Linked DNA regions of Homo sapiens: region 2 is linked to region 1. Evidence: fine-mapped expression QTL. A gene starts in region 1. The other region holds a variant in brackets. All regions are shown on one strand. Distances are between the middles of the regions. Region 1 holds the start of CLEC12A (C-type lectin domain family 12 member A). Region 2 holds the start of LINC02470 (long intergenic non-protein coding RNA 2470).

The links.
Region 2: its variant is fine-mapped to the expression of CLEC12A in whole blood (INTERVAL, PIP 0.91).

What each region holds. Positions count from the first base shown.
Region 1 is chr12:9,962,946-9,980,493 of GRCh38, reverse strand. CLEC12A (C-type lectin domain family 12 member A) reads right to left here and starts at 9,085. Exons shown (of 6, transcript NM_138337.6): 1 at 8,807-9,085; 2 at 1,430-1,528; 3 at 970-1,158. The coding sequence starts at 8,897.
Region 2 is chr12:9,930,319-9,946,357 of GRCh38, reverse strand. It overlaps LINC02470 (long intergenic non-protein coding RNA 2470), which reads left to right and starts at 2,863. Exons shown (of 5, transcript NR_104634.2): 1 at 2,863-3,228; 2 at 3,786-3,869; 3 at 6,265-6,449; 4 at 7,188-7,295; 5 at 9,544-9,779. CLEC2A (C-type lectin domain family 2 member A) reads left to right here and starts at 13,988. Exons shown (of 5, transcript NM_001130711.2): 1 at 13,988-14,083. The coding sequence starts at 14,029. The variant C/T (reference allele first, on the strand shown) is at 5,795.

The sequences.
Region 1 (17,548 bases):
CATTTGCTGTTTATTCTTCTTTCTTTTTCTTTCTCTCTTTCCCCCTTTTTTTTTTTTTGACAGAGTCTTGCTCTATTGCCCAAACTGGAGAGCAGTGGCGTGATCTCAGCTCACAGCAGCCTCCACCTCCTGGATTCAAGTGACTCTCCTGCCTCAGCCACCCAAGTAGCTGGGATTACATGCCGTTTCTTTTTTTTTTACATCGAAGGGGAAGTAAGTGAATCCTGTATTCTAGTTCCTTATATACCACCATAATGTGTCAGACACATAACTTGAACAAAAAAATTTCAAATTAAGCACTTGGATTCAAGTGTGTCTTCCTATGTCAATTCCTCTTTGTTATTTTGTATATTCTTTAAAGACAATAAAAACTAATTACTGGAAACATTCTGTATAGTAAGAATTAACCCCACCTATCTATACCAATCTTATCTTCTTTAATTTTTGTTCTCTGAAATGTTGAAACTTTGAGGTTTCTCAGGAGCAAAAGGAATATGTTTTAGCAACTATGACTATAGAAACTTATGGAGACACTAAAAGACCAACTCCCCGATCCCAAAGGTGAAGTCTCAATTTATTTTTTTCTATGGACTTTGTTATCAATCACTGACTGAAATTTAAGAATGAAGTCACCTGTAAAGAGGTGTCACTTCCTCCCTGTCTTCTATTAACCTCAGTGCCCAGAATAATTATAGTAAGTGACAGATTAGAGAAACTGTCTTGTCTAACATTTTATTATGTAACCATTATCTCCTGATAATTTGGGGGCCTATTGTTGTTACTACTTTTTCTGTTTTTCTTCTAACTGCGTGGAAATATCAATGAATTCTCCATCAACCACATGTAATTCTTTCCCCCAAATTATGACTCCCTAGAGAAAGGCTGCTAGCTAATTATAAAATGATTCTTAAGAGACTCAGTGGTTTAGTTTATTGTCCAATAAATAACTCCAAGAGAATACAAGATTACCTTGTTCTTTGCTATATAGCTCACGACATAATTTGGTGGCTATTGTTTGCAGTGTGGTGGAGAGGTTCCTGATCTTGTTGGAGATATTCATGTTACTCATCAGTTGTAGAGAAATATTTCTCTGGAGCTCTTCACTGATGTTTTGTAGTTTGTTCATTTTTTTCATTTCTATCTTCAAAGTTACGTGAACTCCACATTAAAAAAATGACAAAAAATTGTAAATTCTCAATAGAGCCATCATCCTTTATCATTTGCAGAAGTAGTATAAAGATTAAAGGGGTAGGGAAAGCAATTACTCTACAGGAGTGAGGGAAAGAGACTAAGTTCCACATTGTAAGTCCTCCTTGTGGGCCTATCACCTATCATTATTATAAATCTTCCACTGAAGGAATAAACTTTTGTTGCTAAATATTTGAAATTCTAGATACTTCCTCTTGACAAAAACAGGGGCAGTACATACACATGCTTGCCAAGACTCCCAATCCAATGAGCAACAGAAGGCACAGAAGAGTCAGAAACAAGGCTGCTGGACGCCATACATGAGAGGGAGCTGGAGGTGCTGTGGAAAGCAAAATTAACAGAGAGGCCTAAAAATGGTATAACTTTCATTTGGATTATTTACTCATTCATTCATTCATTCATTTTACCTTTATTTCCTAATATGCCTATTGGAAAGAAATGGATTTGCTAGCCATTCAAGAATATTCAAAAAATATTTTTGAAGAATATGTCAAGAATAAATCAAAATCACTTAATTGTTTTGTATGTAAATTGATTCTGGCAGGAGAAGCTGTTAACTGGTAGACTGATTTAAAAAAACAGATAAGCAAAAACAGAATTTATAATAGAGAATGGAGAAAACCAGTCAACCTAGATATAGTGTATTTTGTTTGTACAAATTTGGGAAAAGTGAGTAGCTGGAAATTAACAGAGAAGCCAATAGGAGAAGTCTTTGCTTGAGTAGACAATTGTGGCATGTCAAGAAAAACAGTTTCAGTTGTTTATGTATCCCCCCAGGCAATTATGAGAATTTAGCTGCAGAATGAACAAGATAGGCTGTCTTTTCATAATGTCTTTGGGTGTCCTCCCGTTAGCTTTTGATCTTAATCAGTCCAGATCTACACCATTTTTATTGCAATTTTTCAAAAAAATTTTCATGTGTTTTTGCAAGAAACTTTTATTGAATACTTCCTTTTTAATGAATAGTGAAGCCCAGAATAGATCATTTCTCTATTTAAAAAAAAAACAGGAATTATAAACTTTGTGAGTGAATTATTATTGTGACTATGTTATTTAAATCATCATTATGTATAAAGCTATTATACATTAGGTAAAGACTAGCTAGATATTTCAAGAAAATCCAATTCAGGGATACCATAATAATCTCACTATACTTCTGAGCTATGTCTTACATCTCATAGTTGATGGTGCAATAATATTGTGAAATCCAGAGACAATTACTAATAAATAGTAAAACTTAACTTATATAGACTTTAGAAAATAGTTACTACTGAAAGAACTACATGTTCAAGATTTTATCTAAGATTAGAATTATAAATGCCAGTGCTATCTTTCTTAAAATTATTTTCTTATTTATATGTGTATTCAATTATTCAAGTTTATTTATTCAATGAACTTATTCAATTATTAAAAAGTTCAATTATTCAAAAGTTATCTTTTGAGTGCCTTGTATTTATTAGACATTATCCTGGGTGCTAACAATATCAAAGTGAGCAAGATGTACAAGTTCCTGTTTTCACAGCTATAAATTTTAATTGTAGGAGGAAATAGATAAATAGATATATAAGTGAGACAGGGAGAAAGAAAGAAAGGGAGAAAAGATCTCAAATTTGGCGATGTTGTGCAGAGATTTAAAACTAAGCTGTTATAGAGAGCAGGCAGTTCAAATCTTATGAATAGGAACCAGCATGCAAAATAAGTAGGAAGAACATTACAGGTAGCAATTACATGAAGTTCAAAGACAATAATTTAAGGAAAAGATTTCTATTTGAAAAACAGAATATATTCAGAGGGGCAGAAGAATTGTGGCCAATGTGAAAAATGATGTTAAAGGTTTTATTTGTTTTCTTTTGTTTTGTTTTTAAAATAACAAGGAGGAGACATTATTTACAGCCTTTTCTAGCCAGAATAAGTTAGATTTTTGGGGAAACCACTGGAAGAATTTAATCTAGGAGGGCAAAATAACAGAGTTGTTTTATCAGTAAGAAATCTGTTACAGTATGACATGTGAAAGAGAACAGAAGTTTGACTAGCTAGTACTAGGGAATTTGATGACCCATGGATAAATTAAGTATACATTTCTAAGCTAAAATCTATTGCAAAAATTTCTGAAATTTTTCTTTAGAGAAAGTTGGTAGATATGCACATTTGTAGGCAGTATCTCATAGTGATAAAAAGCAAAACACCATCTTTAGGGTTAGCATGTGTATTAGTCCATTTTCACATTGCTAATAAGACATACCCAAGACTGGGCAATTTATAAGGAAAGAGAGGTTTAATGGATTCACAGTTTCACGCGGCTGGGGAGGCCTCACAATCATGGTGGAAGGTGAAAGGCACACCTCATATGGCAGCAGACAAGAGAAGAAAGAACTTGTGCAGGGAAACTCCCCTTTATAAAACCATCAGATCTCATGACACTTATTCACTATCACAGGAACAGCACGAGAAACACCCCTACCATATGATTCAATTACCTCCCACGAGGTCCCTCCAACAACACGTGGAAATTGTGGGAGCTATAATTCAAGATGAGATTTGGGTGTGGACACAGCCAAACCATATCATTCCACCCTGACCTCTCCCAAATCTCATGTCTCACATTTCAAAACCAATCATGCCTTCCCAACAGTCCCCAAAAGACTTAACTCATTTCATCATTAACTCAAAAGTCCACAGTCCATCTGAGACAAGGCAAGTCCCTTCCACCTATGAGCCAGTAAATTCAAAAGAAAGTTAGTTACTTCCTAGATACAATGAGAGTACAGGCATTGGATAAATACGGTCATTCCAAATGGGAGAAATTGGCCAAAACAAAGGGGCTACAGGCCCCATGCAAGTCCAAAGGGCACCAAATCTTAAAGCTCCAAAATCATCTCCTTTGGCTCTATATCTCACATCCAGGTCATGCTGATGCAAGAGGTAGGCTCCCATGTCTTTGGGCAGCTCTGCTCCTGTGGCTTTGCAAGGTACAGTCTCCCTCATGGCTGCTTTCATGGGCTGATATTGAGTGTCTGCAGCTTTTCCAAGTGGACAGTGCATGCTGTCAGTGGATCTACCATTCTGAGAGCTGGAGGACGGTGGTCCACTTCTCACTGCTCCACTGGACAGTACCCCAGTGGGGACTCTGTGTGGAGCTTCTGACCTCACATTTCCCTTCTGCACTGTCCTAGCAGAGGTTATCCATGAGCACCCCATGCCTGCAGCAAACTTCTGCCTGGACATCCAGGCATTTCCATACATCCTCTGAAATCTAGACAGAGGTTCCCAAAACCCAACTCTTGACTTCTGTGCACTCAAAGGCTCAACACCACATGGAAGCTACCAAGGCTTGGGGTTTGCACCCTCTCCGAAGCCATGACCTGAGCTGTACCTTAGCCTCTTTTAGTCATGGCTGGAGCAGCTGGGATGCAGGGCACCAAGTTCCTAGACTGCACACAGCAGAGGGACCCTGGGCTCAGTCCATAATACCATTTATTCCTCCTAGGCCTCTGGGCATGTGATGGGAGGGGCTGCTGGGAAGACCTCTGATATGCCCTGGAGTCATTTTCCCCATTGCCTTGGCGATTATCATTTGGCTTCCCATGACTTTAGAAATTTCTTCAGCTGGCTTGAATTTCTCCTCAGAAAATGGGATTTTCTTTTATTTATCATTGTCAAGCCACAAATTTTCTGAACTTTTATGCTCTGCTTCCCTTATAAAACTGAATGCTTTTAACAGCACCCGAGTCACGTCTTTAATGCTTTGCTGCTTAGAAATTTCTTCTGCCAGATATCCTAAATCATCCCTCTCAAGTTCAATGTTCCACAAATTTCTAGGGCAGGAGCAAAATGCTACCAGTCACTTTGCTAAAACATAACAAGAGTCACCTTTGCTCCCGTTCCCAACAAATTCCTCATCTCCATCTGAGACCACCTCAGCCTTATCACCATTTTTGTCAAAGCCATTCAAGAAGTCTCTAGGAAGTGCCAAACTGTCCCACATTTTTCTGTCTTCTTCTGAGCCCTCCAAAGTATTCCAACCTCTGCCTGTTGCCCAGTCCCAAAGTCTCTTTCAGATTTTTGGGTATCTTTACAGCAGCGCCCTACTCTATTGGTACCAATTTACTGCATTAGTTCATTTTCACACGACTGATAAAGACATACCCACAACTGGGTAATTTATAAGTAAAAAGAGGTTTAATGGACTCATGGTTCCATGTGGCTGGAGAGGCCTCACACTCATGGTGGAAGGTGAAAGGCACATCTCACATGGCCACAGACAAGAGAGAACTTGTGCAGGAAAACTCCTCTTTATAAAACCATCAGATCTCATGAGACTTATTCACTATCACAAGAACAGCATGGGAAAAACCCGCTCCCATGATTCAATTACCTCCCACCATGTCCCTCCTACAGCATGTGGGACTTATGGGAGCTACAATTCAAGATGAGATTTGGGTGGAGACACAGTCAAACCATATCAGTATGTTTTGGTTTGAATTCTGGTTCTGCTGCTTATTGCTTGTGAAACCTCGGGAAAATTATTTAACACCTTTTAACATCTCTGTGTCTGAGTTTCAATATGGTTAAAGCATGGGAGACAGAAAGACTGCAAAGTATCAGACACTAAATAATTTAATATTTATAATGCAATTAGAACAGAACTGGCACAGAGAAAACACTTGAAAATTGTATTTAAATATATATTTATATGTGTATTTAATGAGATGAGGCTGTCTGGAGAGAGAGACAATTTTAGAAGAAAAATAAATATTACTATTTTTGACATTTTAAGTTTAAAATGAGATTAGAACTCCTTATGGAAATGTGAAAGTGGCACATGTATTTTCTAGTCTTGAGATTCAGGGAAAGGTCATACAGAGATATTGGGGAGTCACTCTATTTAAAGTCAAACAACTGAATGAGGTAGATTAGAAGAGTGTACTGAGTGATGCAATAAAACGGGACCCAGGACAGGGCTTCAGAGTATTCCATCTTGTAGAGTTTCATCTAGGAGGAGGAATCAACAAAGAATGAGGAGAGGCAGGCATGGTGACAGGAGAAGCCATGAGGATGTGTCAGGAGGGATGTGCAAAGAAAGCATTTAGAGGACTGTTCAACTTTTTCAATGCTGCAGGGAAGTGAAGTAATGGAAGAGACATGTGACTATTGGGATGAAACAGGCAGGACATCAGTGACCTAAAGCTCAGTCTCTATGGCACCAAGGGGGCAGAAGCCTAATAGAGTTGGTTGAGAACAGAATGAGAGGTGAAGAACTGAGAGTCAGTGGCCAAAGAAAATGCTTTCAAAAGTTGAGTTGTGAAAGGAAACAAAGAAGTTAAATAATAATGGAAAGGCTTAAGTGGTCAAGCAAGGATTGTGTTTTGTTATAAAAGGAGTAGCAGAGTATATTGGTGAGTAGTAGAGTATGTTGGTGCACCAAAAAGGAAAAGCAGAGAAGGAAGAGAGAATAATGACACAGGAGAGAAAGGAAAAAATTACGGAAGTCTGTCTTTGAAAACGACACATGGACTGAAATTCAGAGCAAAATGAGGAGCCGTCCCTTCATAAGTACATACTTATCGTAAATACTATCTGGAAGGAAAGCAGAGTATCAGTAAGGACATGGTAGGATAGACATTTAAATAACAACAAAAAAAAGTGTAGATGGATGCTTTTTTCTTACCAGAGGAAAGGTGAGAGTAACTGGGGTTGAAAATTTGTGTATTTTTCACCAGCAATATTCAACTCTGGGGCAGACTGGGTGGATATTCGGGTTTAACCAGAACTGGAGTTGTTTTTATTTGTTTGTTTTTGGGGTTTTTGTCTTGTTTTGTTTTGATTTGTTTGAGGCAGGATCTTGCTGTGTCACCCAGACTGGAGTACACTCGCCTGATCTTAGCTTACTAGAGCCTCCAACTCCTGGACTCAAGTAATCCTCTTTCCTCAGCCTCCCAAGCAGCTGAGACTATGGGTGCCCAGTTAATTAAAAAAATTTTTTTTTTATAGACATGGCATATCTCTACTTTCCCCAGGCTGGTCTCAAACTTCTGGCCTCAAATAATCCTCCCATCTTGGCCTCTCAAAGTGCTAGGACTATGGGTATGAGCCACTGCACCTAGCCAGAGCTGGAGTTTTTAAGGAAAAATTAACACACATTGAAGAGGAGAAGTGTAAGAGACTAAGAGTAGACATTACATAATACAATGTTATATTACATAATGTAGATTCTAAGCTCGATAATGAGAAAATTAGATGAGATTAAGAACATGAAGAAGACATGGATTCAATATTTCCGTGAATTCAGGGAATTCTTGTGGTGGGAACTTAAGGTGGATTGGCAGGAAAAGAGGTGGGAAAGGGTGTGAGAGGACAAGTAAAGGGCAATTGTTGGTAATATTAGGCTCATGATATGCCCATTCTCTTTCAGTGTATAAAAGAAGAAATATAAACAAGGAAATAAAGACAGAAAATATTGTAAAATTCTTAAACCCTTCTTCTTTCTAAAAAAAAATTTCAGTATTAAAAAAGAAGCCAACAGAATTAATCTGCTATCCTTTCTCAAGATTTACAATGCTCATCATAAATGGATCCAAGATGTAACAGTGAAATTTCTGTTTATAGCAATGCTAGAATATTAAAGATGTTATATTCTGTGTGGGGAGAGGAGAGAGGACAACAACTTAAATAATATGTGAGAATTTTGGCACTCTTCTCTCCTTATTTTTCTGTTTCTATCACCCTTCTTTGTGTTCTCCACTATCACTGTTTAAGTTATTTTTAACTCAAATACACTGATTTAAACTATGGATTCGCTAGGGCAGATTTCACTCCCAAAAGGCTAGGAGCCAGAAGGCAAGAACCATACATAATAGGAAAACTATAGGATTCTGAGTAAGATGAAGAGTAGTTTTGTTTAAGTGAAAGTCAACACAGATGGACCACTTATTTCATGATTTTAATTTGAATTGAAAAATACAAAGTTACTTGATATAATGTGGTTTTGAATATTATGAATATATTATGTCTTCTGATATTTCTTTACCTCTTTTCTTCCTTTATTCCTTAATGATTCATTTCATTTAACTTAACATGTTTTATTTTTTAGTAAGTTAGTAAAAAATCTCCAAAAGAAGTAGGAGAAATTTTAGGGTGATTTATGCTTAGTTTGGTAGATAGTCAAATGAAATCCTATAAAGGTCTCTCTGTCTGACACAAAGCATTTTCTTATAAAAAAAAAAACACACACACACACACACATATGAAATCATGACTTTCCTGAACATGTTTCTTTTTCCATGGCTTCATCTCATAAAGAAATAAAATCTTCATACAACCCAATCATTTGAAAAATTCTGTCCCAATTATATTGAGTGTGATAATAAAAAATTTCAAAAATGTAAAAGATTGATTATTCAATGCAGAGATAAGTGTTTTTACAAAACCCTTTTTTCTAATCATTTTGTTCATACACTTTTTGTTCCTTTGCTTAAACATAAGAGACTTAATTGAAAATTTAAGTTGAATAGTAACTATATCACTAATATTGAAGATGCAAGTCTATAACCACTTCTATTATACAAACTTACAACACATCCATAACTCAAAATCTTACCTTTTTCCCCAAATTTGCCAATTTCTGGGATTTTTTCCATCTCACTGGAGTTCTGGAATTGAAGATCTGCATAAGTAACTTCTTCAGACATTGATGAATATGTAAAGAAATCTTGACAAAGTGTAAAAACACAAAAAGATGAGTGAGTTAACAGAGCTGAATGTTAAACAGGACCTATAATTTTAAACTTCTGTTTATAAACGGAAGCTTAAGCTTACAAGTTTAAACTTCTGTTTATAAACCTACTGTACCAATCACCCATATGTCTGCAAATGAGCCAAATCTCATCTGTGGCTTCAGTTAAGAACATTGAACTGTTGCAACAGATAACATCTTTCTTCCTCATATTTCTTCCTTTTTCTCAATTTCTATATATTTACCAACTACAGAAAGTAGTTTTTGAAATTGTGTTTGGATAACATCATCAGTGTCATGCAAGAGAACACAAATAACTAGCACCACATGGTGCAGACATAGTGTAGGATTTATTGGTGAAAAACTTTCAAGCAGAAAAATAACAGAAAAGATGCAGTTCTCAGACACTCACTAATCTGCAGCTGTGGCCTGGCATAGATATTCCTTTTGTATGATGATGAAGGTCCTGATAGAAGGGTTCTCTTCACTGGGAGACTGAACATACAGAGAGCACTCCCAAGGAGAATGAGACAGTTAGTGTCATTCCGTTGCCATGTTACATAGCTATAGGTTTGCCTAAGAGAGGTAGGGAATGCCTAGTTTCTCTAAATAACAATATATAGGTTGGTGCTAAAGTAATTCTGGTTTTTGCCATTAAAAGCAAAAGTAATTGTGGTTTTTGCCATTAAAAGTTTACAAAATTACTTTAGCGCCAACCTATATATTAAGGGATCTGATGCCCAGAAACCACACCAGAGAGTATGCATACTGATGGCCAAGGTCTGTATACTGAGGGCTCTGGAAACAGCTTTGCAGGCCAGGAAAACTATAATCAGCCTTGCTATCTCTCTACAGACTGACTCAACCATTTGATCTCCTCCTCAGCTAAGCTATCAAAAGTGGGAGGGAAATGAGTCTCCAAAGTCCAGATTTGTGTCTTATTAGTTTGACTCAATAGTCTTAGTATTTTTTATTTCACTTCTTGATCAAGAATGCAAGTGGAAGTGAGGGGGTGGAGAGGACTGTTTTTGAGCATGTTCTCTAATATTCGTTAGTAAATCTTACTTTAAAATTCTTCTTGACATTGCCACATGTAAATCATAAAATGGTTAGGTATTATTATTATACATATGAAAGAGAATGCATAAATATTTTTAAAAATCAATTAAAAACTAATTGCTTTATTATGTCAGGATAGACAGGAAAAACAAAATGCTCCCTTTATAAGAGCTACTAAAAATAAATAGGAAAATATTACAGATAGAAATTAACTAGATATTTGCATAACCAAAATGAACAAAAAAATTTTAAAACTATTGAAGAAAAGAAAAAAATAGAAAAACATGCTGTGGGATTAGAAGCGTCAATACTGTATAAAAAGAAACTAAATTCTCCTAAATGTATCAAAAATTCAATGTCAATTTAATTAAAACAACTGATTTTCTCCTGATAAAGAAAAAGCTATTGAATACATTTGAAAATATTACCATGAAAATATTGGCAGCCACATTTAAAGGAAAATATATTCAAAACATGATTACTTCATCCTAAGTACTTTACTAATGTTGCTTTTATCTTTACAACTCTCTAAACCAGGTGCTATTATTATCACCCTTATTTTACAGATGCGGAAGTGAGTTGCAAAGTGGTTAAGTTTGTATCCAACATCACACAGTTGGTGAGTGGTAGAGTTGAGACCATCAAAGTCTCTGGTTGCCTTGTTCAAATATGTGCACAGGCTATAAGGCCTCTCCTGGTGGGAAAGAGTAGCCCTCTATTTTTCCTAGGTGGATCAAATATTTGCATATAAATATTTGTTTATAAATATCTCTTTGTTTGTGAAAGGATGGAAACCGGCCACCACACAGGCAGAGTCCTGTTCTGTGTTCTATTGCTCTGCTGTCTCATGTGGAACGTTGTTTCATCAATCAACACTAGAAGATGAAGCGTATATGACGAACTGTAAAGGGAAACAAATGAAAAATCTCAAAGTCCTGTTTGCAAGGTACTCTATTTTGTTGAAAATATTTGAATAAGTATTACTTCATACAAAATCCTTGGTTTAGAGCCAGCTAAAACATTTATATCCACAAGAATAAGCTGAGCTCTGAGATGACTACATGGTTTGCCCTTCACAGCCTATATCAGTTTTTTAAAAATTTTGTTATTGATACAAAATAGTTGTATGTATTTTGGAGGTACATGTGATATTTTGAAACCTGTATACAATGTGTAATGACCAAATCAGGGTAATAAGAATATTCATTCCGTCAAACACTTACCTTTTCCTTCTGTTGGGAATAGTACATTTCTTCTCTTTTAGCTATTTTGAAATATACAATAAATTATTGTCAACTATAGTTTTCCCACTGTACTATCAAATACTAGAATTTGTTCCTTCTATCTAATTTTATTTTTGTACCCAACCAACTTATCTTTATCCCCCACCACCCCTTTCTAAGCCTCTGGTAACCACAATTCTACTCTCTGCTTCCATGAGATTCATTCTTTTAGCTCTCACATATGAGTGGAAACATGTGATATTTGTCTTTCTGTGCCTGGCTTATTTCAGTTAACATAATGACCTTCAGTTCCACTCCTGTTTCTGCAAATGACAGGATTTCATTTCCTTCTATGGCCAAATAATATTCCATTGTGTATATATACTATAGATACCTGCACTCCCATGTTTATTGCAGCACTATTTGCAATAGACAAGATATGAAATCAACCTATATCAATTTTCATTCTAGTTGAATACTAAGAGACAATCTGCAAATATAATTACAGATGTCTTCCAATATTAAACATAAGTGATACATTATCCATTACCTAAATTATATATTTTTTGTGGGTTGTTATTGTCAGGCCTCTGAGCCCAAGCTAAGCCATCATATGCCTGTGTATATGCCTATGACCTGCATGTACACATCCAGATGGCCGGTTCCTGCGTTAACTGATGACATTCCACCACAAAAGAAGTGAAAATGGCCTGTTCCTGCCTTAACTGATGACATTATCTTCTGAAATTCCTTCTCCTGGCTCATCTTGGCTCAAAAGCTCCCCTATTGAGCACCTTGTTACCCCCACTCCTGCCCGCCAGAGAACAACCCCCCTTTGATGTAATTTTCCTTTACCTACCCAAATCTTATAAAACAGCCCCACCCCATCTCCCTTCGCTGACTCTCTTTGCAGACTCAGCCCACCTGCACCCAGGTGAAATAAACAGCCTTGTTGCTCACACAAAGCCTGTTTTGTGGTCTCTTCACACGGATGCGAGTGAAATTTGGTGCTGTGACTCGGATCAGGGGACCTCCCTTGGGAGATCAATCCCCTGTCCTCCTGCTCTTTATTCCATGAGAAAGATCCACCTATGACCTCTGGTCCTCAGACCAACTAGCCCAAGGAACATCTCACCAATTTTAAATCCAGTAAGTGGCCTCTTTTTACTCTCTTCTCCAACCTCTCTCACTATCCCTCAACCTCTTTCTCCTTTCAATCTTGGCATCACCCTTCAATCTCTCTCTTAATTTCAGTTCCTTTCCTTTTCTGACAGAGATGAAGGAGACGCGTTTTATTCATAGACCCAAAACTCCGGCACCAGTCACGGAATTGGGAAGACAGTCTTCCCTTTGGAATCAGGCAGGGATGCCTGCCTGATTATTCACCCATGTTTCAGAGGTGTCTGACCATGTGGGGACACCTGCCTTGGTCCTTCACCCTTAGCGACAAGTACTGCTTTTCTTGGGAGCAAGAACCCCCAACCCCTTCTCTCCGTGTCTCTACTCCTTCTCTGCTTTTCTGGGGGGCAAGAACCCCACCGCTTTTCTCCATGTCTCTACCCCTTCTCCGCTTTTCTGGGGGGCAAGAACCCCCCAACCCCTTCTCCTTCACCCTTAGCGGCAAGTACCGCTCTTCTTGGGGGCAAGAACCCCCAACCCCTTCTCTCCATGTCTCTACTCTCTCTTCTCTCTGGGCTTGCCTCCTTCACTATGGGCAAGCTTCCGCCCTCCATTCCCCCTTCTTCTCCCTTAGCCTGTGCTCTTAAAAACCTAAAACCTCTTCAATTCACAGCTGACCTAAAACCTAAATGCCTTATTTTCTTCTGCAATGCCACTTGACCCCAATACAAACTCGACAGTAGTTCCACATAGCCAGAAAATGTCACTTTCCATTTTTCCATCCTACAAGATCTAAATAATTCTTGTTGTAAAATAGGCAAACGGTCTGAGGTGCCTGACGTCCAGGCATTCTTTTACACATTGGTCCCTCCCTAGTCTCTGTTCCCAATGCAACTCATCCCAAATCTTCCTTCTTTCCCTCCCGCCTGTCCCCTCAGTCCCAACCCCAAGCATCGCTGAGTCTTTCTAATCTTCCTTTTCTACAAACCCATGTGACCTCTCGCCTCCTCACCAGGCCGAGCTAGGTCCCAATTCTTCCTCAGCCTCCACTTCTCCACCCTGTAATCCTTTTATCACCTCCTCTCCTCACACCTGGCCCAGCTTACAGTTTCATTCCATGACTAGCCCTCCCCAACCTGTTCAGCAATTTCCTCTTAAAAAGGTGGCTGGAGCTAAAGGCATAGTCAAGGTTAATGTTCCTTTTTCTTTATCCCAAATCAGATAGCGTTTAGGCTCTTTTTCATCAAATATAATAACCCAGCCCAGTTCATGGCTCGTTTGGCAGCAACCCTGAGACGCTTTACAGCCCTAGATCCTAAAAGGTCAAAAGGCCGTCTTATTCTCAATATACATTTTATTACCCAATCTGCTCCCGACATTAAATAAAACTCCAAAAATTAAATTCCAGTCCTCAAACCCCACAACAGGACTTAATTAACCTCGCCTTCAAAGTGTACAATAATAAAGTAGAGGCAGCAAAGTAGCAACATATTTCTGAGTTGCAATTCCTTGCCTCCACTGTGAGACAAACCCCAGCCACATCTCCAGCACGCAAGAACTTCCAAACGCCTAAACCACAGTGGCCAGGCATTCCTCCAGGCCTGCCTCCCCCAGGAGCTTGCTAAAAGTGCCAGAAATCTGGCCACCTGGCCAGAGAATGCCCGCAGCCCAAGATTCCTCCTAAGCCATGTCCCATCTGTGCAAGACCCCACTGGAAATCAGACTGTCCATCTCACCGGCAGCCACTCCCATAGCCCCTGGAACTCTGCCCCAAGGCTCTCTGACTGACTCCTTCCCAGATCTTCTCGGCTTAACAACTGAAGACTGTCACTGCCCAATCACCTCAGAAGCCTACAGGACCATCACAGACACTCTAGGTAACTCTCACAGTGGAGGGTAAGCCCGTCCCCTTCTTAATCAATACGGAGGCTACCCACTCCACATTACCTTCTTTTCAAAGGCCTGTTTCCCTTGCCTTCATAACTGTTGTAAGTACTGATGGCCAGGCTTCTAAACCTCTTAAAACTCCCCAACTCTTGTGCCAACTTAGACAATACTCTTTTAAGCACTCCTTTTTAGTTATCCCCACCTGCCTAGTTCCCTTATTAGGCTGAGACACTTTAACTAAATTATCTGCTTCCCTAACTATTCCTAGGCTACAGCCACACCTCATTGCCACCTTTTCCCCCAGGTCAAAGCCTCCTTCACATCCTCCCCTTGTATCTCCCCACCTTAACCCACAAGTATAGGACACCTCTACTGCCTCCTTAGCGACTGATCCTGCACCCCTTACCATCCCATTAAAACCTAATCACCTTACCCCGCTCAATGCCAATATCCTATCCCACAGCACGCTTTAAAAGGATTACAGCCTATTATCACTCTCCTGCTACAGCATGGCCTTTTAAAGCCTATAAACTCCCCTTACAATTCCCCCATTTTACCTGTCCTAAAACCAGACAAGGCTTACAGGTTAGTTCAGGATCTGTGCCTTATCAACCAAATTGTTTTGCCTAACCACCCCATGGTGCCAAATCCATATACTCTCCTATCCTCAATATCTCCCTCCACAACCCATTATTCTGTTCTGGGTCTCAAACATGCTTTCTTTACTATTCCTTTGCACCCGTCATCCCAGCCTCTCTTCACTTTCACTTGGACTGACCCTGACACCCATCAGACTCAGCAAATTACCTAGGCTGTATTGCCGCAAGGCTTCACAGACAGCCCCCATTACTTCAGTCAAGCCCAAATTTCTTCCTCATCTCTTACCTATCTCAGCATAATTCTCATAAAAACACATGTGCTCTCCCTGCTGATCATGTCCGGCTAATTTCCCAAACCCCAATCCCTTCTACAAAACAACAACTCCTTTCCTTCCTAGGCATGGTTAGGGCAGTCAGAATTCTTACACAAGAGCTGGGACCGCACCCTGTAGCCTTTCTGTCCAAACAACTTGACCTTACCATTTTAGCCTAGCCCTCATGTCTGCATGCAGTGGCTGCCGCTGCTTTAATACTTTTAGAGGCCCAAAAAATCACAAACTATGCCCAACTCATTCTCTACGGTTCTCATAATTTCCAAAATCTATTTTCTTTCTCCCACCTGACGCATACACTTTCTGCTCCCTGGCTCCTTCAGCTACACTCCCTTTTTGTTAAGTCTCTGACAATTACCATTGTTCCTGGCCCAGACTTCAATCCAGCCTCCCACAGTATTCTGGATACCACACCTGACCCCTATGACTGTATCTCTCTGATTCACCTGACATTCACCCCTTTTCCTCATATTTCCTTCTTTCGTGTTCCTCACCCTGAACACACTTAGTTTATTCATAGTAGTTCCACCAGGCCTAATCGCCACACACCAGCAAAGGCAGGCTATGCTATAGTACAAGTCACCAGCCCACCTCTTAGAACCTCTCATTTCCTTTCCATCGTGGAAATCTATCCTCAAGGAAATAACTTCTGTTCCATCTACTATTCTACTCCTCCTCATAGATTATTCAGGCCCCCTCCTTTCCCTACACATCAAGCTCGAGGATTTGCCCCCACCCAGGACTGGCAACTCTTAACTCCCTCTCAGAGGGGATAGATAATCTTTGCTGGCAGGGGACCCTCCAATACTTTCACCCTGATGAAGTTCTATTCTTTACTTTTATACTCAATCTTATTCTCATTCCCATTCTTATGCCACCCTCTACCTCTCCCCAGCTATCTCCACCACACTATAAACATTACTCATTCTCTCCTAGCTGTTTCTAATCCCTCCTTAGCGAACAAACTCTAGCTTTGCATTTCCCTTTCTTCCAATGCCTACACAGCTGTCCCCACCTTACATGCAGACTAGGCAACATCTCCTGTCTCCTACACCTCCAAACTTCCTTTAACAGCCCTCACCTTTACCCTCCTGATGAACTCATTTACTTTCTAGACAGGTCCAGCTAGACCTCCCCAGACATTTCACGTCAGCAAGCTGCCGCCCTCCTCCACACTTACTTAAAAAACCTTTCTCCTTGTATCAACTCTACTCCCCCCGTATTTACCTCTCACAACACAAACTACTATTCCTGTGGCTGCTCCTTTATGTATCTCTCAGCAAAGACCCACTGGAATTCCCCTGGGTAACCTTTCACTTTGATGTTCCTTTACTCTTCATCTCCAAAGCCCTCTTGTTGTTTACTTATACCCAGCCCCATAAATAACAGTGAAAGGTAGCTCATAGACACTCAACATTTTCTCATACACCATGAAAATCGAACCTCCCCCTCTACGCAGTTACCCCACCAGTCCCCATTACAACCTCTGATGGCTGCTGCCCTAGCTGGATCCCCAGGAGTCTGGGTACAAGACACCCCTTTCAGCACTCCTTCTCATCTTTTTACTTTGCTTCTCCAGTTTTGCCTCGCACAAGGTCTCTTCTTCCTCTGTGGATCCTCTACCTCCATGTGTCTACCTGCTAATTGGACAGGTACATGCACACTAGTTTTCCTTACTCCTAAAATTCAATTTGCAAATAGGACCGAAGAGCTCCCTGTTCCCCTCATGACACCGACACGACAAAAAAGAGTTATTCCACTAATTCCCTTGCTTATCAGTTTAAGACTTTCTGCCTCCACTATTGCTCTCGGTACTGGAATAGGAGGCATTTCAACCTCTGTCACGACCTTCCATAGCCTCTCTAGTGTCTTCTCTGCTAGCATCACAGACATATCACAAACTTTATCAGTCCTCCAGGCCCAAGTTGACTCTTTAGCTGCAGTTGTCCTCCAAAACCGCTGAGGCCTTGACTTAGTCACTGCTGAAAAAGGAGGACTCTGTATATTCTTAAATGAAGAGTGTTGTTTCTACCTAAATCAATCTGGCCTGGTGTATGACAACATAAAAAACTCAAGGATAGAGCCCAAAAACTTGCCAACCAAGTAAGTAATTATGCTGAACCCCCTTGGACACTCTCTAATTAGATGTCCTAGGTCCTCCCAATTCTTAGTCCTTTAATACCTGTTTTTCTCCTTCTCTTATTCTGTTTAGTTTTTCAATTCATACAAAACCGTATCCAGGCCATCACGAATAATTCTAAATGACAAATGTTTCTTCTAGCAACTCCACAATATCACCCCTTAGCATGAAATCTTCCTTCAGCTTAATCTCTCCCACTCTAGGTTCCCACATCGCCCCTAATCCCGCTGGAAGCAGCCCTGAGAAAT
Region 2 (16,039 bases), 33 kb after region 1:
TGAGCTTGTTTTCGTGCAACTAGACGGTCTCATCTGGGGATGATGGGAGACAGTGACAGATCATCAGGCATTAGATTCTCCTAAGGAGCATGCAACTTAGATCCCTTGCATTCACAGTTCACAGTAGGGTTTGCACTCCTATGAGAATCTAATGAGCAGCTGATCTGACAGGAGGTGGAGCTCAGGCAGTAATGCAAGTGATGGGAAGCAGCTGTAAATACAGATGAAGCTGCTCTCTCTTGCCTGCTGCTCACCTCCTGCTGTGCAACCCCATTCCTAACAGGCCATGGACTGTTCCTGAAAGGCCATGGACCGTTCCTGAAAGGCCATGCACCGGTACTGGCCCATGGCCCGAGGGTTGGGGCCCCCTGCCCTAGATAATTTATTGATTTGAGGAGAAACCCCCTCCCTACACATCTGGTGTAGGAGGTGAAATATTAAGAGTATTGTAAGAAGAAAACAATCCCCCCGCCCCCATATATATACTTGCTTCTATGAGGGAGAGGTTGATCTTATCTCTAATGATTTGGTTGAATTTAATCTAAGCCAGTCATACTGTTTCTATTCCTCTTGAAAGTTATCATCTTAAGAAGGAATATATGGTCTGTCAAGGTAAATGAAAAATGAGAGAAATCTTCTAGTTGAATTCTAGGAACTATTTTCCACTCATTAAGAAGATAGAGGCAGAGACTGGCATGGTGCAACTTCATGGTAAGGATCACTAAGGATTGCCAGCAGCCACCAGAAGCTGGAAGAGAGGTGTGAAGCAGGTTCTTCCTCAGAGCCTCTTTATTCCAGACTTCTGGCCTCCAGAACTGTGAGATACCACATTTCTACCATTTATAGCTTTGAAATCTGTGCTAATTAATTACTGAAGTCACAAGAATACATTACATAAATAAGTATAAATAATTCTTATGTATAGAATAAGGTCTATACACATACAATATATGCTTATACATGCATATGTATGTGTTTGTATATGTATTTGTGTGTGTATATATATGAAAATTTATATATATATATGAAAATTTATATATATATATATATCTCCAGGCTGGAGTGCAATGGCGGGACGCCGGCTCACTACAACCTCCGCCTCCTGGGTTCAAGCGATTCTCCTGCCTCAGCCTCCTGAGTAGCTGGGATTACAGGCGTCTGCCACCACACCAGGCTAATTTTTGTATTTTTAGTAGAGACGGGGTTTCACCATGTTGGCCAAACTGGTTTCAAACTCCTTGACTTCAGATGCTCTGCCTGCCTCAGCCTCCCAATGTGCTGGGATTACAGGCGTGAGCCACAGTGCCCGGCCGTATATGTATATTTTAAAGAGAATGTCTGTGGGGAGTAGGGTGTGTGTATAAACTTTACTTTGCGTGGTTCTAATATGCATAAACTTCACTTCTCACAGTTTAATTAAATAACTCCCCAACAGCACAGTTTAATTCTTTCAGCGTACTTATCTGTATTTGTATTATATTTACTGTAAGTAATTGTATAAAGTAGAAACTTCCATGCTAGTTTTTCAGTTCACGAATCACTATATACATGTTTGTATTGTGATTAACGACCAACCATGTCACTTTTTTCCAAGTCTGTCAATGATTGATTGGTCACCATGCATCTTTTATCAGTTAATACAGAATAAGATGGAGAGTTATTCTGTATTATTTTGTAAATGTCACATGGGTTTGTCACTGTATGACAAATTCCAAAGGAAATTTGAAACAGGAAGACAAGAAGAGGAAGGTAATTGAAACAGGAAATTGGTTAGTGACACAAAGTGCAGCAAAAAATGATGGCGCTGAAAGGGGAAATAAAATAGAAGAGAAATGAAGTTAGAGAAGCAATAGCTGTTGATAGGGTTATTAATAATTCACCTTTTGAAGAGTCTCTAGATAATGCAACCAGAGGAATTTAGTAAAGGCACACTTATTGACAAAAATAAGGTAAGTGGTTGTGATGAAAAGAATGAAGAGGTCCCAGAGGAAGTTATACGAGCTAAAGTGTTCACATCAAATGAACTCTCAATGTGTTTCCTAACATTTCAAGTGCAAAGAATAGTATATTGGAAGTCTATCCAAATTTAGGAATAAAAAAGCTTGAGAAGGCATCTAAAAGATGCTGGCTCCATATTGTAAGCGATAGAACAACAACAGCACGTACTCAATTCACACTACTCATTTTCTTTTAAGCAAAACACTTGAAACTCAGTGTTTTTAATGTTTTAATTATAGCATACTTTAAAAATATTAATTTTATTGTTGTTTACATTTCCCTATACGTTTATGAGTGACAGTAAAGTAATTTTCAATCAGGAAAAGAGGATAAAGGAAAAATCATACTTTTCCCTATTATTAAAATAGCTTGGTGTGATATCAGCTTGTGCAGTAATTTTTATTATCACACACTACAGTGCAAAATAAAAACTGCCTGTATATGAAACAAGCTTTCATTAGTTCCTATGAAAACATGTAAAAACAATGGCTTTGTTTTCCCACATTTTACTAAACACTCCACAGGTACACTTAGAACACAGTGGTTAAAAATGTAGAACAGAAAAAAGTTATTAAAAACAAGAAAATGGGGGCAGATCCACTTTGTGGCGTGAGAGAATGTGTACACTTTCCAGTGCAGGCAATTTATGTTATATACCTGTGTCCAATCGGAGATTTTTAGGGAGACAATATAAAGAAGCCGGAAAGGGAGGGTATGGGACTCCCCATTCTCTGCTCTGCGTACCAAGCAGGTGGGAGGTGAGGTGCCCATTAGGTTGAATTCTTATCGCTGTGCCCCAGCCAATCGTGGGCTGCGGAAATCATGGGCTGTAGAGTCATCGCTGCCGGGGCAGAGGCACCGTTGGTGCATGCCCGGCTGCCGTTGCTGCCCCTGCCTCGTACAAACGTCAGAGAAGGCACATGACACGCCCCTGGGGGCCATCTGGCCCAAGTCCACCTGCGCGGCTGAGTGGAGGATGCTAGGTTGCTGTGCTGTTTCTCCTACTGTCTTGCTGCCGCACCACCCCTCAGAAAAACCGGGTCGTCAGTTTCCTGCGGTTTGCACTCACCAAATATACTTAGCAATTTGCAATTCACCCGCAGGATTATTCCAGCCTCTGTGATCACACACAGAAGGATGAGCCTTCCTCGTGAGGGTTGGAGATGGAGGGAGAAGGGATGGAGAGTAAGGATGGGACGGAGGTTGTGGAGCAGCAGACCAACACGCCAGGTGGGTGAGGTTGTGTGATTATTCTAGCATCTTTTCTTGATCCTAGCTTGCACCCTTTTAGCATTGGGAGGGAAGGGCAGGGTAGGGGATAGCGACCATAATATAGATCTTAAGTAAAAGCAGTTTTCATTAATAAAACAAAGACTTCAATAATAATGATAATTGGCGATTCCAGCCTCCTCCATCATATTGGAAAAGACAGTATTTCATTAAAAATACTTGGAATTTTCCCTTGGAAAAGGCAGTATTTTATTAAAAGACGCTGCGAGGAAACTGTTGGTTTTCTGTTCTGGAAGCAGGGCAGAAGAATTAGTAACACAGTTCTGCCAAATAGCACAGGAAAGTGGAGCCAAAGCACCTTCGAGGCTCCTGATGTTCAAACGTTAGGTCTTAGTTCCCTTTCTTATTTTTCTAATACATTAATTGCTGAATTGTGAACAGTAGAACACGCGGAAGATAGAGAAAAGAGATAAACATGATGGGTTTTTTGTTGGTTTGCTTGCTTTTTTTCTCTCTGGAACATAAACAATGACATCTGTTTCTCTTTGGTATAATAGAAAGGAAAATAATGATCATCTCAATTTTTATATGTGGAGGCATTGCTTTTCTTCTTTGGGGGATTTTAAGATTTCCCAGAAAATGTAAGTAAACAATTTCTGCTAAAATTATTAAATTAAATTGTTAAAATTATTGTATTATTGATTCAGTTGGATACCAATAACTAGTCTTTCCTTCCTTAATATAGAACAATTTAGAGATAAAAGCATTTTCCAAGACAGTGCATCTAATTGCTCTTCAAACTTAGTCACCTGCTTCACCTTCTAGAATAATCAGTCTTTCAATAAATATGTATCAAGCTTTAGGCACAGTGCTGCCTGCTGATGATATAACAATGAAAAAAAATGGTATTTCTTGCCTGAAAGTAGTTTATCTTTAACTGAATATGGAAGCATGTAAGCAAACAACTGTAACACAAAAGAAATAATTACTAAATAGAACTATGTTGAATTTGAAGCAGGAGAGGAGATTATAAGTTAGCTGCTTGTAGTCAAGGCTTTAATGAAGGGAGAAATATTTGTGCTGAATCTTAAACTCAAGTAGGCGTTTATCAAAGATCATCTTAGAACACACATGTCAGAGAATCACACCAGGTATAATTATGATGGAGTTACAAAGAAGTAGGGTGAGGGACTGGCAATTGTATTATAGTTCCCTAGTGCATTAACTCTTTCACTGCCATTCATTAGCAATTTATACCTTGTCCTTCATCTCCATTCTCCTCATGCTCATTCTCATGTCTATACCCTTGCTTCCAACTTGTTCTAATTTTAACAATTTGTAGGAAACTTCCAAATGCTCCCATCACCACACCAGCTTACTTACTCCATCTCTGCCCCTACACTCTGCCTAGACTCCTGGAACTGTAGATGCAGTATTCATGTTCTACAATAGATCCTATATTCTTTCACTGGATCAGTAATATCACCCTAGTAATTCTCCACTCTCCTACATTATCCTTTTTTCATCCTCAACTGAAACATCTCCATCAGCAAATATGACATACTGGTATCTATATCAACCTTGAAAAAATAAACAACAAAAACAACAGAATTTATTAGACCCCACTTATCTTTTAGCAACCAATTTATTGTTTTTCTCCTTGGTACAGCAACCTCTTTAAAACGGCTTTTCAAAATAATTTTTTATCTTTCCTTTTTCTGTTAAATCCACTTGGATCAAGCTTCCACTCTGCTTTTTCCACCAAACTTGTCTTTCAAGTTCACCAATAACTTCCATATTGCTAAATCGACTGGTCCATTCTCCCTCCTCACCTTATTATATAACCTATTTGCAGCTTTTGGCACTCCCTTTTTCTAAAAAAAAAAAAAAATTTCATTTGACTTACATGACGCCATATTCTTGTGGTTTGCTTTCTACTCATTTTACCAACAACCGTGATTCCCTGATTCTCCTTCACTCTGATCTATTTTACGACAAACTATATAATTTCAGACGCATAAGTCCCATAAGAGTAGGTATTTCTGTATGTTATGTAGGCTATTCATAGAGTTACAAAAATGTCTGGCGTGTAGCAGGTGCTCAATCGGTAGTTGTTGACTGCGTAAATGAAAGAATGAATTAATTAGTAAATGAATGAGAAAACTGCCTTTCTGGTGACCCAAGTTTTGAATTAAGTATTTGGTTTTTATATTGGTTATTGATTTGAATTTGACATTTTAAAATAATTTTGAACATGACACATTCAAATAACTTTGATAACTTGATTTTTTCACTTCACTCTCAGGTCTCAACTATATAGAACCATATTGCCAGTTGATCCTTCCCATTGAGGATTTTCCCACTCACAGATTTGAAGATGAACCAGTCATTTATTTTAGTTGTGGATAGGAGGTGCTCTCAGAGCTTGTTTCTTTCAGGATTATACCTTAACAAGGAACTTCCTTTATCTAGTGCAGTAACTTAAGGAGTAAAAGTGGAGAGTAAAAAGGGAAATTTTAGCATTCTTTTTTCTGTGTTTCTTGTTTCATAACGGACAAGGAAACAG[C/T]GCCACCTTCTAGAGAAATGCTGTCTTTGAAAGACAATATAGTCTCAGTTAAGTTGATGATAGGAACCAGCTCACTGAAGTTATGAATATAGAAAAATTTGTTTATTTACACTGCAACTTGTTCTAGAGAGCATAGTAAATTTTAGGAAAGAAATAGATGAATAAAGAAAATTCATGTAGTCTAAAAATTAGGAGGGAAAATGGCTGGAAGATACTGAATTTCTGGAAGTTTGTTATTGAGTTTTTAAATTTTTCATAGCTCTCATTCTCCAGTGCTTATTCCTTTCATGTTCTCTTCTCGATATTCAATTTTTTTGAATTGATGTTTAAAGTTAAGTCATTCAAATTGAATATGTAAGTAAAACACATTTTATTAGTCTGAGCTATATAATAATATTTTACTCTGAAGCTCACTCTTTCTTTCTTTGATACTTTCTTTATTCTTTTTCTCTATTACCTGTTAATTTCAGTTGGAATTCCAAGGCACCTTAGAAACAAGACATGCCTAGAAAATTTGACTATGTGTCCACAAGGCTGGAACTGAATCAATAATAATTGCTTCTTTCAATCTGAACATGAAACAACGTGGATCAATGGCTGAGAAAACTGCAGAAGTTATGGATCTCTGGCCAGGCTCAACTCTCAGAATGAAATGGTTAGATTTCTTCTTTGCAATATTAAACTCATTTAATAGCTACTAAAAGACAGGCACACTCCTAGGGTGTAATACATTAGCAAACCAAAGAATCAAAGATCTTTGCCCTTGTGGAGTTTACATGCTAGGGGAAGAGATAAGCAATGAAAAATTATCTTATTAAATATGTAATTTATATATTGTGTTAGAAGTTGGAAAGTTTTATGCAAAAAAATGAAAATTAAGGGAGTGGGTTTACTGCAGGTAAGGTTATATCCCAATAAGATGGTGACATTTTAGGAAGGATGTGAAGCAGGTAAGGGACTATCTAGAAGTGAACTTTCCAGGAAAGGAAAATGGCTGGAGCGTGTGTCTTAAGGCCAGTGAATGTCTGGAATATTCAAGGAACAGAAAAGAAGCAGCCAGTCAATCTATCTAAAATGAGGGATTGAGTGAAGAATGCGGATCATTAGGGTCTTGCAGGCTATTGTAAAGAGTTTAGTTTTTGCTCCAAGCAAAATAGGGAGATACTGCCAAATTATGAGGGAAAATGTAATAGGATCTGACTTAAGTTTTAAAAGAATCATAATCTTTGCTGTGATGAGGTTGGCTACTGAGTCTCAAATGTAAACGGAGGGAATCATGTTATACGGCCTTTGCAGTAACTGTGCAAGATAATAATAGACTTAAAGGGCACTGGAGGGAGTGAGAATGAGAAAACTAGAAGAAATCTATGACAGCACTCTGTATTTTGTAAAGGGAATCTTTGATGCATTATCTGGGGCCGTCTTTATATTGGTTTGAACTGAGCAAGCACAATGCAAACAAAACGTGGATGTGGGCAGATGGAGCTACATTCAGCAATTGGTAAGCCTTACTAACATGTATTTACTATTAAATGTGTAAAGCGTGGTAAAGATTCTGAGTCTATAACTGGCTTCCTCCATAGATTCCTCCACATCATCCCCCCAAAAGACCCTCAAAAAATAGATGCCAAAGAGAATATTTAGACAAAGTTACGGTTTTTAGTGAGGGTTTGGCATCACATATCAATATTTATGTATATATATGGAATTGGTATATACCACATGTGAGTCACAAGTGTTCCCTTTATCCTGAACTGGATGCAAGTCTAAGCAGTTTGATCCTTTCCTCTTTGGACCTGGGACCTTGCCTTTTGTTTTTGTTTTTTTTGTTGTTGTTCCTTTGGCCTTTCATTGATGGGAGAGCATTAGAGAGTGTACTGAAGCCTACACTTTCCGCACCCACCAGTGGCCTGACATGCACAAGAGTAAGTTAAGAAGAGAACGTGTTTGCCTCAGTTTACCTTTGTTTAAAATTCAAGAACTTCTTTATATTCCATAGCTTGAAAAAACTCATCATACACTTAGAATCTATTTTGTTCTTAAAACACTTACAAATTTCTCCAACGTCAGGGTGGAGAAGGTCATATAAAGGATATTGAGTTCTCAGTATTCTTTGGTGAACTAAAGGTGACCACTAGCTACCATTTATTGACTGCCCACTTTGTAATAGATACTGGTTCTGTAGCACTCCATGCCAGATATTACATGTTGTATATAATATAATAAAGTTAGTAGCGGAACTTTCTAAAGTTGAGAAAATTCTCTTATGATTATTGTATTTACATTCAATTTGGGGTGAAAATGCACAATGATTTGAGAGGGATAATATACCCAATATTATATTTTATCTTTGAAAAATGTAAAAAAAAAAGACAGATTAAACTTTCTGACTATAAAACATAATATTATATTTTCTTGAAAGAAAATATTAACAGCTTAATGTGGCATTACATATTATATACAGGCCCATCAAAAAATGAGACAGGAGTTAACATTGGTGTATTAATTTGCTAAGTCTGCTGTAATAAATGCCACTGAATGGGTGGCTCAAAGACAGCTCTGGGGGCCGTTAAGTCCAGGATCAAGGTGTTAGTAGGGTTGGTTTCTTTTAAGGCCCTTCTCTTTGGCTTGCAGATGGCTGTCTTCTCACTCTGTGTTCATGTGGCCTTCTGTACACACTCAAGTCTGTGTCTAACTTATTTCTTCTTATAGGGACATCAGTCATATTGGATTAAGGTGCACCCTAAAGACCTTTTCTTACCTCAATCACTTCTTTTTTAAAAAAAACAAATACCTTATCTCCAAATCTGTTACATTCTCAGGTACTGGGAGTTAGGCACTTAATGTATGAAATTTGGGGGCCTATAATTCAGCCCATAACGGTTGTTATTAGTTGGCACTATGGATTGGATAAGCATAAAAATACACATATATTTTGGGAATGGGCAGGATAAAAATTTGAAGTTACCCTAGAAGTTAGGAAAGTGTACACCAGTACTGTGAAGTTCCCCCAAATAATTACAGTATAACCAGAAATGTATCATGATTAACCATCCTGTTTTCCTCCGTTTTGAATTTTGAATTTCACATGTTTATATGTATGGCATAAAATATAAATGTAGGAAATCTTTTCTTTAGATTTTATTTGTTTACTTATGTGTATCGTAATCTATTGAGTAAAGAATACCTGTTTCACTACAGTGATGGTGATAAAGAGTGGCCAAATGTGAACATTTATTTCAGCATTAATAGACCAATTTTGTAATATATGAAAGGTATGTTCAATGAAATGTCAGTTACACTCCCCTTCTTTATAATTTCTAAATGGCTAAACACATTGATATATCAATGTTTATGCTACAGTATAAAGGGAAGAATCCAATCCCTCACAAAATGATTACAATGTTTGCTATAGTATCAACAGCGTAAACTTCCAGGACTGTGTTGTTAGGCACTGAAGTCACATAGTGTCCTTTTCTTCCTGCCATCAGGGTCCTGAGGTAAAATTTGGAGAAAGATAGGAGGAGAGCAACAGCTTGTTTCACTTCCTCTACTCCTTCCACACTGCACGTGTTTTAGAAACCGGGCTAATGAAATTTACGTTCTATTTTCGAGGCTGTGCTCAGTTATTTCTCAGGAGGTCCAGTAAATAAAGAATTAATCTATTTGTTTTGTCTTTAGTCAAGTTATGAAACTAGCGAATTATTTACATTAAGTGGATTTGTTGTTGCTGTCGTTGCTGAAACTAGTGAAAGAATCGAGTTTTGTGCTATGAGTCATGGGAGCAAAACGTGAGTATTTAGAAGTGGAGAGGACCACGAAGAAGGAAGCCCTGGTGACTTGAAGAAATCATGGAGAGTTCTCCGGATTCCCACAAACCTATGGGGTTTAGATTCCAGCTAATACTTACACGGGTCTCAGAAGGACAGAGGGCAAGGGTTAACATCTGGCTGATATTAAAGTCTCTGCACCTCTTAATATTTTACTTTGGCCTAGTTTTCTTTTCTTCGCTTTTACATTTCCTGATATAATGAGTAATTCTCTTTTGAGTATTAACTTGTACCATGAACTATGCTAAATATTTTTACCCCTAAATGATGAAGAATTTTTATCATTTTTTGCTGAAATAAATGAGCAAATGAAAGATTGTTTACCTGGGATTATAGTAAATGGTAGAACCACATTTTAAATTCAGCTGGGTCTCACACACATTACAGACATTCAAACAATGTGGAAAATAATATTGAAAAAATAGATGGTTGGCCGGGTGCGGTGGCTCATGCCTGTAATCCCTGCACTTTGGGAGGCTGAGGTGGGCGGATCACGAGGTCAGGAGATGGAGACCATCCTGGGTAAGATGGTGAAACCCCTTACCCTCTACTAAAAAATAGAAAAAATTAGCCGGGCGGGGTGGCGGGCGCCTGTAGTCCCAGCTACTCGGGAGCCTGAGGCAGGAGAATGGTGTGAACCCGGGAGGCGGAGCTTGCAGTGAGCAGAGATCGCGCCACTGCACTCCAGCCTGGGTGACAGAGCGAGACCCCGTCTCAAAAAAAAAAGAAGAGAAAAAATAGATGGTATGTTCAGCATCATCAGAAGCAAATTTTATCAGCATCTCATCTTCTCATTCTCTATGGGGCCGGGATTTAATAGTGTGTAAACCGTGTTAGCAGGTTAAATGCAGGTGTTGTTAAATTATAATTTACATGCTGTACTGTACAAGAACAAAAATAATTCTAAAATTTTCAGATTATTGTGCTACAAAAAATGACCATCGTTAGCAAAAGGAGGATGGGGAATGAGACTTATGCATTTTTAAGGTCATTAAACATCTCCATTAGCCATCTCTGGAGTGGTGACTATCACATTAGAAGGGGACCGCTTTGCATCTCCTAATGATGACATTTCTATCCAGCTGTACTGAAATAGAAATAATGTTAAAAGGAGTCAGAGCGCCCAGTGGAGAAAATTTGACAGGTAAAGAAGAAAAGAGAAAGGAACAAATAATGGGCTGCGGGTTGAATTTTATGAACATGAGCAGAACTTTGAACATTTTTAAGTATAGTTATTCAGGCTAGGTGAGTGGATTGCATCCCCTTCCAACTTATTCTGAGGACAGTACCCAGAGTGAACATATTAAATGTATGTCAGATCACACCGCTATTCTGCTCAAAAGAATTTTCCATCTTCCCATTTCACTTAGAATATTAGCCACAGGCCTCAGAATGGCAAAAACAGAATTACCCTGTTGGTACTTAGCTGAACTCTTCTCTCACTGTTCTCCTCCAGACACAGCTGGCTTCCTCACTCTTTCCGGAATGTGCCAGGCATACATCTGCCCTAGGATCTTCACACAATTCCACCAGGATGATGGTATCCACATGGCACTTTCCCTCCTCAAAGTTCATTTACATTTCACTTTCTCAGTGATGCTTACCCTGACTACCCTATTAAAATTGCAGCTCACACTCCTCAACCTTGACATTACTAATCAATTTTAACCTGGTCTATCTTTTGTTTTCAGTGGAACTTATTACATACTGGAATATGGAATATTGTACCATTTGTTTACTATCTTTAGTCTTTATGTTTAAACTTCCTGGAATGGAAACCCCATGAGTAAAGGAATCTGTGTCTATTTTGTTCACAGACGTATTTCAAGCACCCTGAAAAATGCCAAGTACTAATTAGGCATTCTGTAAATGTTTGTTGAATAAGACAATGAAGAGGCAAATTAAATTAAATACAAAATAGTTTGTTATCCAGGACATTTCTGACTGTATAGCCAAAGCTTTAAAATGAAGATAAGAATAATTTTATAAAATGAATTAGACACATATCAACCCTAGGGAGAATCTTCAAAGTGGTCTGCTCCTTTGAAAAGCCTTAAACAGGAAAGCTTTTATTTAAAGAATGGGCTGGGCATGGTGGCTCACACCTGTAATCCCAGCACTTTGGGAGGCCGAGGCGGGTGGATAACCTGAGGTCAGGAGTTCGAGACCAGCTGGACCAACATGGAGAAGCCTCGTCTCTACTAAAAATACAAAATTAGGCAGGCATGGTGGTGCATGCCCATAATCCCAGCTACTCAGGAGGCTGAGGCAGGAGAATCACTTGAACCCAGGAGGTGGAAGTTGCGTGAGCCGAGATCACACCATTGCATTCCAGCCTGGGCCACAGGAGAGAAACTCCATCTCAAAAAAAAAAAAAAAATGACACTGTGCTTCTGGAAATAACCTAATTATTACCAGAGGAAGGAATTCATGTCTATGCCATACAAGAGCTTTCACCCTTTAGAAGTGTTTTACGGAAGGTCACACACACACACACACACACACACACTGATCAAATTGCGGAATTCTCTGAAGCATACAGAGAATGGCATTTATTCTGGCAAGAACTGTGCAAATTGTTACAAGAAACATAAGGGATGGCAAGTATGAACAATTATATTTCAACAGATGCAGGAAGCAGTTGAAATATGGCTTCTCAACATCTGGGGCTTGCATACTTGTCATCTGGAAACCAGATTGGGTCAGTTACATGTGGAAAGGAATAAGTTATTGCCAGGCCAAATTTCCATATTAAAAGAAGTCTCCATTACCAGATTCTTTTTTTACAGACACCAAATAGACCAGGGAGTTACTAAAAATGGAAGGAGGTCGTGAGAAAGCAAGTCATACTATGAGTAGGACCTCACCTTATGAATTGCCTCTTTAGCAAAATCAACTGCAGAAAGGAAAGACATTGTCTGTTAAATGAAAGGTAATAAATGGAATTCGCAGGTGGACAAAAATACCTCCTGAAATCCCGTAACCCAGCGGGGTACAGATGAGACACGCCCTCTGCAGATACAGTGTGCAACTACCAGTGTGACTCTGAGTGCCCGTTTTCTGTCTCTGCACCGAAGCACCAAAAGCAAAGATTCCAGGCTGAAGCAAATTTTTTTTTTTTTTTTTTGAGACGGAGTCTTGCTCAGTTGCCCAGGCTGGAGTGCAGTGGCACGATCTCGGCTCACTGCAAGCTCCGCCTCCCGGGTTCACACCATTCTCCTGCCTCAGCCTCTCGAGTAGCTGGGACTACAGGTACCCGCCACCAGGCCCGGCTAATTTTTTGTATTTTTAGTAGAGACGGGGTTTCATTGTGTTAGCCAGGATAGTCTCGATCTCCTGACCTCATGATCCACCCGCCTCGGCCTCCCCAAGTGCTGGGATTACAGGTGACAGACACCGCGCCCAGCCAGTTTTACAGCTTTTTATAAAGATAAACATACTTATATGATGCAGCAATTCAATTTCTGGGAATTTATCCAAGAGAAAACTTGCTCACACAAAAATGCCTGTGTACAGCAGTTTCATACATAACAGTCCCACCCTAGAAACAAAAGTCCATCAACTAGTGATCAAAGAGATAATTTCTGGTATAACATGCAATAGGAATACTACTAAGAAATAAAAGGGAATGAACTACTTACCTGCACAACAACTTGAGTGAATCTCAAAAGTATTATAAATGAAATAAGCAAGAGACAAGACACTACATATTATATGATACCATTTATATAAAATTCTATGAAAGGGGCTGGCCGTGGTGGCTCATGCCTGTAATCCCAGTACTTTGGGTGACTGAAGCCAGAAGATCACTTAAGCCCAGGAGTTCAAGACCAGTCTGGGCAATATAATGAGACCTAGTCTCTACAAAAAATAAAATTAGCAGGGCATGATGGTGCGCGACTGTAGTCCCAGCTACTTGGGTGGGTAGGGCAGGAGGATTGCTTGAGCCAAGGAGGTCAAAGTTGCAATGGGCCAAGTTTTCCCCACTGCACTCCAGCCTGGGCAACACAGTGAGACCCTGCCTCAAAAAAAAAAAATTCCATGAAAGGAAAAACTATGTTGATATAAAGCAAAGTAATGCTTGCCAGGGTCCAGGGTCAGAAAAGATAGTGATTACACAAGGAAAAAAAGAAAGATGATGGAAATGTTCCATAGCACGGTTGTTGTGGTGTTTACATGATTGACTTTACGATCCTTTTGTTATGGATGAGTTAATTTTTAAATTCCTTCCTTAAACTAACAAGTCTGCCTACTTTTATCTTTGATCTAAAATTAGTACTGATGTTTTCCATTTGGATTGGTTAAGTCTCTTTTGACTGAAGCTTGCTCAGTGCCTAAATAAGTGATGTACATGAAAAGCTTTCTAGTCCTCTCCTACTGATCTCCATCGGTTAGCGCCTTGCCATGATTAATCCAGAGCTGCGGGATGGCAGAGCTGATGGCTTCATACATCGGATAGGTAAGTTTTATAGAGTGAATGAGAAGGAAGTAAAGGAAAGATAAAACAAAATACAGGACAGCTTAAAAATATGGACTCTTTACTTACTGTGAAAGTCTACTAAAGTAAGTGAGGGATGGGGAAGCACTTCCGGAGAATTGTGGAAGCCTGTTAGAGCATGTAGAGTTTTATGTCTGCAAGAGAGGGTATAAGCTTGTGTGTAAGAAGGTTTTGGGGCAGAATTTTATGGTACGTGTATTATATCTCAATAAGAATATTTTTAAAATGTACTTTCACAGGGAAAAAATTGCTTAACACTTTTATACAGAATAAAAAGCAAATGCTTCACTCTGGAAGGAGGCTTGATGATTGTGACTTCATAAGACTGAAAAGAACTTTTCAAAAATTTTAAGATTCAGCTAAGGCCAACAATGAAGTTTGTTTTCAGTGGATTGAAACATAAACAAACCAATAAATAAAAACAAGGTACACATACAAACACCCTCCATTCACAATAGTTCTGAGGGTTTATGTTAAAGAAAACGAATGAATTGTATGCCAAATGACTGGAATAGGAAGCCTGCCAAAACTTTAAGATAAAGACAGTGAAGAGATAAAAAGTAAAATCTTGAAATGAGTTAAGGACTCCAGCTGAAACCACTATCAGAGTTTACTGATATGAATTCCCAGGGCAATTGGGATAATTCTTTTAATAATAAGTAAGCCTGATACTCTTAAAGGTTGAAGAGACCTCAGTAGCTACCTAGTAAAACTTTTCATCTACCATACGATTTCTAGCTACAGCATTTCTAGCAGCCTATACTAGAATGTTTTCAGTGATAATATCTCTCTGTCTTAGAAGACTTTCCATTTTAATTTAAGGATGTTCTATTTAGAAGTTTCTTTAGGGTAAGGTTAAATTTACTTCGTTGTATATTCTAACTATTGGTCATAGTTACGAACTCTTGATCTATGAAAACTTCATAAGAAAATTTTTAAAAATTAGTCTACATTTTACACAATTGGACATTAGTATTACAAAAAGAAATAAGATTCCATCCCTTTAGCCAAATAAATTAGTCAGGCTTGTCTGGGTAACAGATTTAAGAGTTTAGAGAGTAAAAAGTGGAAGAAAATTTATCTCATTGCATAACGAGAAGACAAAATATGAAGTACTGTGAAGCATGTACTGGAAGATTATGAGAAAGCCGGGCTGCAGGAATCATTAGAACATCTAGTCTGAGAATTTAATTAAAGCATAATAAAAATGCTCCAAAAGAAAAGATATTAATGAAATGAAGAAGCACCAAGAACACAATAAAAACCAAGTGAAAATAATAATTATAGAAATATAGTGTTTGAAATAAAGAACACTTTGAGGAGTTAATTAATAGAATGGACGCTGATTAAGAATGAATAAGACCTAGGAGATGCTATTAAAAACATGACAGAAAAGAAAACAGTTAGAAAATATAAAATAAAAGCTGAGAGATATGAAAAATAGAAGTAGAAATGCCACCTTCTAGATAACAAGAATCTGAAACAGAGAGAGAGAAAAAAAGAATAGCGGATAGGAAATATTTGAAGAAATAATATTCCAACTTCTAAAACTAATAAAAGCCAAATACCTCAAACTGAAACTTCAAAAGTGTACAAACAAAATAGATAAGAAAAAAACATGCATCTGGCACAATAGAGTGAAAGAAAAATATACAAAATTAAAAAATGAGATAATAGGAGACGTTAGTGAAAAAGAGAAGAAATGAGAGGGATAACAAATCAAATGGTGGCTATTAGAAAAGACGAGAGAACTAGATGTCTAAAAGTTTGCAGAAGACGATACAATAAAGAAAATATCAAAAAAGTACAAATAATCACAAAAACCACAAATATTAAAATTTAATAAAACATTATGGAAATAATTCATCAATTATTATGGGGCAAACTCTGTTCCCTTAAAATTTTATATATTGAGGC